Regions from separate parts of the Homo sapiens genome. Here region 1 is linked to region 2. A link means that fine-mapping ties the variant in region 2 to the expression of a gene that starts in the linked region. Tissue or cell type: whole blood. Region 2 holds a variant in brackets; the other region holds the start of a gene. All regions are shown on one strand. Distances are from middle to middle.

Region 1 (5,433 bases), 55 kb before region 2:
CATTATTACCATGAGGCTCATGTGGGAAGATCAGACCAGCTCCAGAAAAATGAAGAAATTACAATTTCTCTATACAACCAAGTAGTATGGTGGATTAAAACTTGCACCCCTGCTCCATAAATAACCAAAATCATAAATGATAAAGGGGACATAAAATAAATCAAAACATAAAGAGGCTTTTACAAACACAGAATGGTATAAATTTTAGAAAGCTTAATAAAATGGGCCATATTCAGAATTATGAGTTACCTATATTAGCCCAAGAAGTATGCCAAGTAGAAAAGAAGTATGTCAAAAGAAAGTGAAAAATTCATCAAAGATTACCTCTAAAAACGACCTGAGATCAAACCATTTAATGAGTACATTCTTTCCAACTTTCCCCAAGGGTCAACCCTCGAATGTGTAATAGCCACAGGACTCGGGAAAAGATGGAATGCTTCTCAGCTCATCAAGAAAGCTAGGCTACCTATAGTACACCAACCTGAATAGAATAAAACTATAGGACACTATTTTTCTCAAAAGCTTTTGTTACTCCAGGAGGTCCTAGTGCCTCTAATATGCTGTGAAATTCCAATGAGGGGGTGGCAGGCAGTGGTGTTCCTCAATTCAGGGTTTATCCAGCCACTTCCAGACCCTTCTTAGAGCCGTGCTAGAGCTTCCTGGAGTTACACCATCAGAAGATTAAGGTGGATCCAAGAGCCAAGAATATAGAGAAGCATACGCAGAAGAAAAGGGATTTGCAAGAGATAAAAAGAGGAAAAGAGACCGTATAGCAGATTGCAATCATAATAGCAATGCTAAGGCAGGAAGCAGTACATTCTGCTTGTGAAAATGTAAATTGATTCAGCCCTTCGAGGAAGCAACTGACAATGTGACTTAGAATCTAAAGAGTACATACTCTTTGACTTACTAATCTCAACTCCTGTCTGTCCATCTTGGGTAATTAATTTGAAATGAAGATAAAGATTTACATACAAGGATGCATTTCATAGAATTACTGATGGCAAACAAAATAAAACAGAAACAAGAAGCAACCTAAATGTCTGAAAATGGAAACTATTAAATAGATTATGGCATGTTCAGATAATAAGTTATGCAACAATCCAAAGCAATGTTTTTGTGGGGGGAGGGGAATGTAATGACAGGTATAGGTCTAGGATTTTTAGAAAAAAGGCAGAACATAAACTGCAATGTATAATCTAAGTTATATTTTTGAAATATATGTATATAGAAAAGACTACTGGAAGAAATATAGACCAAAACCACCTTGAATATGGTCTCTGAGAGGTAAGGACTCTGAATGAATAACATTTTCTTTTATACAGTTCTATTTTCTAACTTTCTGCACAAAGCTGTATTACTTTTACAATCTGAAAAAAAAACAATTACTGCCTATGAATAAAAACACATGTGAATGATAAGAAAAAAAATTTAAGCCTCCAGTCACTAAGGACAAAATCATTCCTAGCACGCAAAACAAACCTGAATCTTAACACCGGTGCCCTTTAAAGCATAGAAAAGAAAAAGCAAACCAACCAAATCCCTCCATAAAGACAGGCTGAGCTGCTTCTCTCCAAAGGTGGCGGGGTCGGGGGCGGGGGTGCTTTCAACACACCATTGTCGAGAGGAAAACTCAGCACCCGTTTTTCAAATGCAGCTGCTGGAGGATCCCCCTTGATTCAAAGACCATTCACATCCAGGCTTAGAGGGTTGAGGGAGTGTGAAGGGTGCCCCCCCCCAACCCCGCGCCCTCTTCAAACACACGCACACTCTTACACTCACTCGCGCCGTCCCAGCCTGCCTACTCCCAACGAGTCCAAGCCGGTGCAGCCGCGCCCCATGCCCGGCTCGCAGCTCCCGAGCCCCAGTCCGCCCGCGCTGGGCGCCGCTGTACCTGTTAGTGGCGCGCGGTACCGCGGTCGCCGGGCTCCGGAGCGTCCTCAGCGCTGCGGGGGTGCCGTGGGTGGCCTCCCTGCTTTCCTCCACCAGAATCCTGCACAGCCGGGGAGAAAACTTAAGTTGCTACACCCCGCCGGGAGCTGTTGGCTGAAAGGCTGGGAGTCGCGCTCCTTGCCTGGCAGGGAGATCTCGCACTCCCCGGCTCCCAGGCCAGGTCCCCAGCCCCAGAGTTGGAAGAGCCTTAGGGCGGGAAGGAAGAGACAGCAAGGACCAGAATGGGGAGCATGAGATCCTGATGCGGAACCCGACGGCAGGTCCCGCTCCACAGCTGCCTCGCCCACAGCGATGCGCGCTAGAGCCCCCGCAGCCCTGACCGGTCCCTCTGCTCCCCAGCCGCCGTCCACCGGTCGGAGGGTCGCCTCCCTGCGACCCCCTCCCCCACTCCACTCTCAGGCCGTCGCCGCCCGTGGGCTGCTCCCCGCCGCGGCCAAAAGTCTCCGCGCCCGAGGGGAAGCGATGGGCGGCTTGGGGGTCCGGGGGCGCCAGGCGGGGCGCGCGGCGCGGGGCGCGGCCGGCGGGTGGGTGGGTTACCTGGCGCGGCCGGGCGCGTCTGCCGGGCACCAGAGCAGGCGCAGCAGCAGCAGCAGCAGCAGGCTGGCGAGCAGGGCGAGCAGTGCGCCCCCCGGCCGCATCCTGAGCCACAGGCGCCGCCGCCACCGCTGCTGCCGGGGCGAAGCACAGCCCGGGCGGCCCCGACTCGCGGCTCCCGCCGCCGCCGCCACCGCCGCCGTGGCCGCAGCCCCGCGCACCCACAGCGTTCACAGGCGGCAGCGAGGGGCGCCCGCAGCCCACCCGGCAGAGTCTCCGCGGCGGGCGGAGAAGAAGCCGCGTTCGGGCTCGCCCCGGGCTCCCGGCCCCGGCCCGCGGAGCGCCGCGATCGGCTGGCAGATGACGATTCGCCGAGCTCGCCGCCTGTCCTCCCGGAGGCGCTCGGAGCTGCTGCGGGCTCCGGTCGCCGCTGCCACTGCTGCTGCCGCCGCCGCCGCGCGGGGTCACCTGAAGGTTGGGGCGCGGAAGCTCAACTCCGTGCTGATTGGGCTCCAAGTTTTCTGCGCCCTCGCCTCGTCCCGAGTGCCCGCGAATCCCCCGGACGCCCACGCAGACCACCCAGCCACACCACAACTCTGCCTGCGGAGAGAGGAGAGGAGAAAAAGGGGCCGCTTCAAAAACTTTCAAAACTGTGCAGTCGCTTGGCTGGATCCTCCCACGCATGAAGAAAGCTGGGGACTGGGGAATTGCTGGGTGGATCATGACACTGAACAGAAGCAGTAACCTGTGCTTACTTCAACCCAGATTCAGAGGGACAGCGAACTGGTATGAGGGGCTAGGAGACCTTTAGGCATGAGCACATTACTACCTGGAGACCCGTTTAGCCCCTGCCTGTATTTGCAAATAGTTTTATTGGAAAACCTCCATGCCCATGGCTTTGTATTATCAGTGACTGCATATGGCTGTATGATCTAGGGCTGCAAGGGCAGAATTGAGTAGTGATGACAGAGGTGGCATAGCCCACAGGGCCTAAAATATTTACCATTTGAAACTTTCCAGGAAAAGTTTGCATACTGCTCTTAAATAAGCAAGAGGCCATTAGCTTGAGGCTGTCTCTGTACGTTGAGTTCCCACCTAACAATGGAAACCTACATTAGGCTGTAATGAACAGGGGGCTACTGGCCAATCATGGGCAACCAACTCATTATACCAGGCCCCACAAGGCAGCCTGCATAGCTATAGCCAATCAGTTTCTCCACTGTGCTTCTGAGTTTGGCCTATCAGGCTTTGCTGCTCACACCATGGGGTGGACCTCACTGGACCTCCTCTGGTTGTGAGTGCTGCCCAATTCATGAACCCTTTGCTCGAATAAACTGTGCTAAATTTAATTTGTCTGATGTTTTTCTTTTAACACTGCTATGGGCTGAATGTTTGTGTCTCTACAAAATTCATATGTTGAAACCCAAATCCCCAATCTAATGTGGTGGTATCTGGAGGTGGGGCCTTTCATACCTGATTAGTTCATGGGGTGGAGGCTTCCTGGTGGAATTAGTTCCCTCATAAGAGCAGGCAGCGGGGAATTTGCCTCCTCTCTCTCTGCTCTGTGCAGTGTAAAGACACAGCACGAGGGCAGCTTTCTGCCAAGCAGGAAGAGGACCCTCACCAGAACCTGACCATGCTGGCACACTGATCTTGGGTTTCTTACCCTCCAGAACTGTGAAAAATAAATTTCTGTTCTTTCGGTCACCCAGCCTATGGTATCCTTCTTATGGCAGCCAGAACTAAACCACGGTCTAGATCATATTGGTTAGTATCTCATTTACGAGTATCTCATCTGTTGCAGGAGAGTGATCCAATGACACTATGAAACAGACTGGCTCTCTATTTTTTTAAAAGTGGGTCTCAACTCTCTATGCCCTAAACTATCCTGACTGCCCAAGCCCCCACTTAGCCACTTCCCTAGGTTTTAATTCCATTGTGGTTATATGCAGGCTTATAAAATTATTCACTCTTACTTTTGTATAGTTTCGAGATTTTTCCAAATGCAACCCTTGGATTCCACCATCTTGGGAGTACCTTGATAAGATCTTTTGAAATGACTTCAATTTTGAAAAGGCTTTCATGAGTTAACTTTCCCAAGCAACAAAAATATGATATTTCAACTGACATCTCCTAGAAGCATATGGTCTTCACCTGAAAGAGGCCCAAGTGAGAGCCATTTGGGAGCAACCAGGCCAGACAGCCAAATAAAGCTGTCACCAAAGATTCCATCACAAGAAAACATATATCAAGGCAAGAGATACCAGTGTCCCTAGTCTCTTTCTGCTAATTCCGGATTTACTCTAAAAACATCTTGTTGAATACAAAACAGAAGTTTGCACATAATAATTGATCAATAAATGTTTAGTCAATGAATAAAAGCACATAAGAACTAGTGTTATTTTTAAAGAGAAAATGGAGCAAAAAAACTAAAAATAAATGTGACTAGGAATGTGATTTCCTTCTATAGCTCATCACTGCTGTTAATATATGTACTAATCAGGAATAAAAACAGGCTTCTACTTTTATATAAAACTAATATTTGTAGGGATTCAGTTGCTTCATCTGAGTATGACATAAAGTAATGCTATACTCAGGTAGTGATAGAATAATACAGAAATCTAGTTCTACATATTTCAAAGTTTAAGCCGTTTGTTAAATAAGTAGAATATGGCACAATCATCTAGAAAATGAAGAGTTGCCTGGATTTGAAAGATATTCCAATTTTTATCTCAGTGCAGAAAATTGTGCAGAAAACTAATGCTGAACATGGTTTGCAGAAAAAGAAAAAGGCATTATTGTATCAGCCAGGAAGCTGCAATTTCACCTAATTTACTAAAGTTTAATATTTCAGCACAGCTGGGCTCAAGGCAACAGCAGAAGAGTCAGCCTTGCACTGGGTTCCCTAAACACCCTTGCTGCAAATGAAGTTACTTTTTATCAAGC
Region 2 (5,433 bases):
AAACACTTCTACATGAAGACTGATCTCCTACCTGTTTTTAATTCAAGAAGCACTCTCTGAGGAGAGGGGATGGGGAAAGAAGGATAAACCATTAAGGTCCATCGTCCTATTCCATTAGGAGAAAACTCTGAGAGATAATGAGACAGAAAGGCTCGACAGGTTTCCCCAAGGACAAAGCCAACTAGTTGCTTCAAGCAGCAGCTCCAGAAGAGCAACTATAAATTTCTTAGATCTCACACCCATTAAAATTCTAGGAAAAGGAGGCTAATTTTGCAAGTAGTCAGCTCGAACTTCCTGTTATGTGTGCCTCTTATAAAATGACGCGAAGAGGATTATATGACAGGAACAGTTGAATAGCTACAGCAAAGTTTCCAGGTTCTCGTAAAGACTATGTAAACAGATTCATCTTGAGAAGTCTACAGTTTTTTTGTTTTGTTTTGTTTTGTTTTAAATAATTAATTAGATTTAAGCACAAAAGGAACTATTTAAATAATTACCAAAGGTACTACCAATGCTGTTATATAAGTGATATCTCTGCTGCATACCCACTGGTACTGCTATGCCCTGTCGAATATGTATAAAAGAGGCATATTATCAAGAGAGGACTAGCTTTTGTAGATTGAAGACCCAGTGAAAATGGGAAGTAAATCTCTGGCCAGAGTAGTCAAAGTAATTAGGAAAGGAGAAGAAACAAGATGTTTTGACCACCAGTGAGGGTGATTAGGTGCAATGGTAGATCATTTCCAAAGATGGTTGCCAATAATTGCCACAGTCCCTGAATGTGCAAGCCACTCCTTTCATCAAGATTCATCAATCTATCTCTCTCCCCCTTGAATCTGGGCTATGCTGTATCTTGCTTTGACCAAGAGAACATAATGGAAGTGATGGGACATCACTTCACCTAGACTTCTAAGCCAAGGCCTTAAAAGAACTTGTAGCTTCCACTTTCGCTTTCTTGGAAGCCATTTATTATAGGCTAGACTATAACATGGTGAGAAACCACATGGAGACAGTGGTCTATGCCTGTAATTCCAGTGCTTTGGGAGGTCAAGGCAGGAGAATCGCTTGAGGCCAGGAGTTCCAGGCCAGCAAAACCCAATCTCTATAGAAAATAAAACATTAGCTGGACATGGTGGTGTGTGCTTGTAGTCCCAGCTACTTGAGAGACTGAGGCAGGAGGATCACTTGAGCCCAGGAGTTCAAGGCTGCAGTGAGCTATGACTGCACCACTGCACCCCAGCCTGGGCCACAGAGCAGACCCCTCTCTCTGAAAAAAAAAAAAAAATTTAAAAAGAAAAGAAACAGAGGCCGAGCCAGTCCCATCACCCAGCTGAGGTACCAGATGTGTGAACGACCAACCTCAACTTGAATGTTGCTGCCTCAGCAGAAACTAAATGCAGCTACAGGAGTGACCATAGCACGCACTCACTGGAGCAGAAGAACATCTCAACTGAGCCCAGCGAATTATGAGAAATAACAGTCTTTAATAATAGATGGAGAATTGAAATAGGTTCTCTGTCCCCAGTGACAATGAAGAGCTAGTTTGACAACATATGTGCCTTGATTGGTGAGTAGACCAGATGTGTGGACAAACTTCTGGGTAAGTCAGTGGCTTCCTGAAAGATGTGCAGTTTATTAGTCCATTTTCATGCTGCTGATAAAGACATATGCAAGACCGGATAATTTATAAAGAAAAAGAGGTTTAATTGACTCACAGTTCCACCTGGTCGGGGAGGCCTCACAATCATGGCGGAACGCGAAAGGCATCTCTTACATGGTGGCAGACGAGAGAAAAACGAGAACCAAGTGAAAGAGGTTTCCCTTATAAAACCATCAGATCTTGGGAGCCTTATTCACTACCACAAGAACAGTATGGGGGAAACCATCCCTGTAATTCACCTCCCACCAGGTCCCTCCCACAACACATGGGAATTATTGGAGCTACAATTCAAGATGAGATTTTGGTGGGGACACAGCCAAACTATATCAGGCAGTAAAGCGGTATCCATCCAAGCCACCAGAACGCCATTGCCAGTTCTGACACGATGAAGAAAGAGCAGACAAACTGGGATTGAGTTGAAGGGTTTTCTGAACACTTCCAAACTTAGACCGTATGGCAGAATCCCAGAAAGCTGAACGATACAACACAGAAACAATAGCTCATTCCTGTTTGCAGGGTTTGGGGGAAGGGACTAAAATGGCAGTCTTTTGAAAGGTGCAAGGAATACAGATAGGTGACGGGGGAAATTGATACAGAGACATGAAGGCAAGCAAAGCTAATAAGCCAGTCATCAGAGGGGCGCTGGGGAATCTCTGGGAAATCTCTGGAAATACACGGCAGAATGACGCAAGCCACTCGAAAAGGAAGCCAGAATGAATGACTATGTTCATGCATATGCAAACATGTATACATATGCATGGACGCCGATGGTTTTCTGGGAATGCTGCAAAAGGAGTAGAATGTGCCCCTTGGTATATTCCAGGAAACTGATTTCCCAGGGAAGGCAAAGTAAGAAGTACATGGAATAGGCTGGGTGTGGTGGCTCACACCTGTAATCCCAGCACTTTGGGAGGCCAAGGGGGTGGATCACAAGGTCAGGAGTTCAAGACCAGCCTGGCCAAGCTGGTGAAACCCCATCTCTACTAAAAATACAAAAAATTAGCCCGGCATGGTGGCAGGCACCTGTAATCCCAGCTACTCGGGAGGCTAAGGCAGAGAATTGCTTGAACCCAGGAGGCAGAGGTTGCAGTGAGCTGAGATCGTGCCACTGCACTCCAGCCTGGGCAACAGAGCAAGACTACACCTCAAAGAAAAAAAAAGTGCATGGATTAAAGTTTACAGGTGAGGTCCACGGACATTTTTGGTGAAACCGAACTCACAAGCTGTGATCATTGCCAACTAAGCAGTCAGACA[T/G]GAAGCAATCTTATCTCAAAACTGCAGAACATTTCCTGACAGAAAAGATACACACAAGTCTAATGGATGGGAAGCTTTGCAGTGAGAAAGCCACATCTTCTCACTTCTGCATGGCACACCACTCTATGGGCTAGTCAAGTGACAAGCTGATTAATGCATCAGAGTTCCCCAGAAACTGCTAAGACACTGAAAACTGTTTCATGAGAACACAAATTTTATTCAGTAATGAGACTAAATATAATAACTGAGAAGAATGTTATTGCAAAATATCAGGCAAATGAATTATTGTTTTCATGACAAAGGTCTTCAAAGCGACAAGAGAGAGATTGTATATTAAGCAACTTTAGTAAAATATTCTGTATGTAATGAAATAAAAAAATTTAAATTGGGATTTGCACATCCTTGTTTTTGTGTCTAGATCAGGTTCTTGAAAAACCAACTTAATTGTGTATATAATTGATATTTATTAAAGTATAGATTTTAAAATATTACCCTATTAAATTGTTCACAGTGTTGAGGCATTTCCACTGCTTTGTTGTCAAAAACACACGTCTAACTTCTAATAATTCCTTAAAAGTTTCCTTAATTTTATTTTCCCTTCTATATTTCCACACTAGTGAACAAATTCATTTGGTAGAAATGGTATTTTAGAGATGATATTCAAGTACGTATTATACTTGGATGAAAATAAACAAAGTAATGATGACTTGTTTTTGAGTCTTTCAATTTTTTCATTCTTACTGTGGCTAGAGTACGACTATTCTAATAAAAACATCCTGTTTTAAAGAATCAAAACATAGCAAATGTATCACATTATATCGAGATTTGAATTTAAGATAATGAAAATTATTGCAAATAAAATAACAGCTTGTATTTGGCAATCTGTAGCCAGAGACTATGATATGACAAATAAAAATATTTTTAATCAGAGAAAAAAATATTGGAAAAGAATTTCCTTCTGTTAGCACAATTAATTTATAAAATGCTGGTAAATATCTACCCTTTACAGTGTGACGCTATCTATAAAGCTTTGCAGTTATTTAATTCATAAAGCAACTCTCCTTTTACAGGTAGCAAAAAAGAGATACTAAAAAACTGGCCTGTGGTCTCACAACCCACAAGGAACTTGGGACTCTAAAGTTGAACCTCTCACAGCACTAACCGCAAACAAGAGTTTTGGTGGCCTTTGTGATACCAGAGAACAGCTTCTCTTTTCTGTTCTAGTGCTTCAAGTTGACAGTGTTGCTAATGATTTAGGATCAAGATCATTAATTCTACACATTTTACTACATTAAAAAAATTTTTTTTGAGACAGGGTCTCACTGTGTCATCCAGGCTGGAGTGCAGTGTCACAAATACAGCTCACTGCAGCCTTGATTTCCTGGGCCCAATCAATCCTCCTGCTTCAGCCTCCTGTGTAGCTGGGACCACAGGCACGTGCCAACATGCCCATCTGATTTTTTTTTTGTAGAGATGGGGTCTTGCTATGTTGTCCAGGCTGGTCTCGACCTCCCAGGCTCAAGCGATCCTCCTGCCTCAGACTCCCAAAGTGCCAGGATTGCAGGTATGAGCCACTATGCCCAGCCCATTTTTGAAATAACATATGGAAAGCAGAGTTATGTTAGCAAAAATTCTTAAATTTGTAATGCCAACATTTCAGCAATTCTTTAGCTGGGGAAAAAAAGAAGTACTAATAGTGCAAATTCTTGGTTAAATAATTTTAACTAGCAATAAATTATCATTGTATAATATTTGAAAAAAGAAGGGAATGTTAAAAGACAATAATCCTGCCCAGAGACATCGTACAAAATTTTAGCAGCTGGATAGAAGTATTGCTGTTTTGCAGTGAGCCTAAGGGATTATTTGGTCCAGTTCCCATCTTCGGTAGCGAAGGCATTTTTTATCCAGTAAGGTTAAGTGACTTATCCAGATTGCGTGGCCACTAAATGGTGGAGAGAAGACAAGAACCTCAGTCTCTTGCTTCTCCACGTACTTTACCTTTCTGTGCTTGACAACATCCTTTTAACTTCTGTACAGAGAGGGGACCCAGCCTGCTGGAGGAAAGGCCCAAGAGAAGTCGCTGATCCCAGCTAAGGGAAGTAGACATGTAAGCCCCAAAGAGAATGCTTGCAATTTACAGACTAGCCAGAAATTTACAGCTTTTATCAAACGCATTCAAATACGTTTGAAAAACAAGAACGTCCACAGTCCGGATGGGTGATCATGAGTTATATCAGCCCATCTGCGTGATCATCACACTTCTGATATGACTCATTGTCACTTCAGAAAGTATTTGTTATGGTTTGAATTTCTGCATCTGTTTCTGGAAGTTGTAGGGGGAAAAGTTGAATTAACTTTGAATTATCAATACTACTGCAGAAAACTAAAAAATGATTTGCATTTATTTTATCTTATTTTTATTTTTGAGACAGGGTCTCACTCTCTCACCCAGGCAGGAATGTAGTGGTGCCATCACAACTCATGCAGCCTCAACCTCCTGGGCTCAAGCAATCCTCCCA

What was found. PIP is the estimated chance that this variant, and not a neighbour inherited with it, causes the effect.
Region 1: ST8SIA6 starts here. The variant in region 2 is fine-mapped to the expression of ST8SIA6 in whole blood (TOPMed, PIP above 0.99).

What each region holds. Positions count from the first base shown.
Region 1 is chr10:17,451,665-17,457,097 of GRCh38, forward strand. It overlaps ST8SIA6 (ST8 alpha-N-acetyl-neuraminide alpha-2,8-sialyltransferase 6), which reads right to left and starts at 2,931. Exons shown (of 8, transcript NM_001004470.3): 1 at 2,491-2,931; 2 at 1,895-1,993. The coding sequence starts at 2,591.
Region 2 is chr10:17,506,356-17,511,788 of GRCh38, forward strand. No RefSeq gene overlaps it. Among named protein-coding and RNA genes, the nearest start is that of ST8SIA6, 54 kb to the left of the region's middle. The variant T/G (reference allele first, on the strand shown) is at 2,915.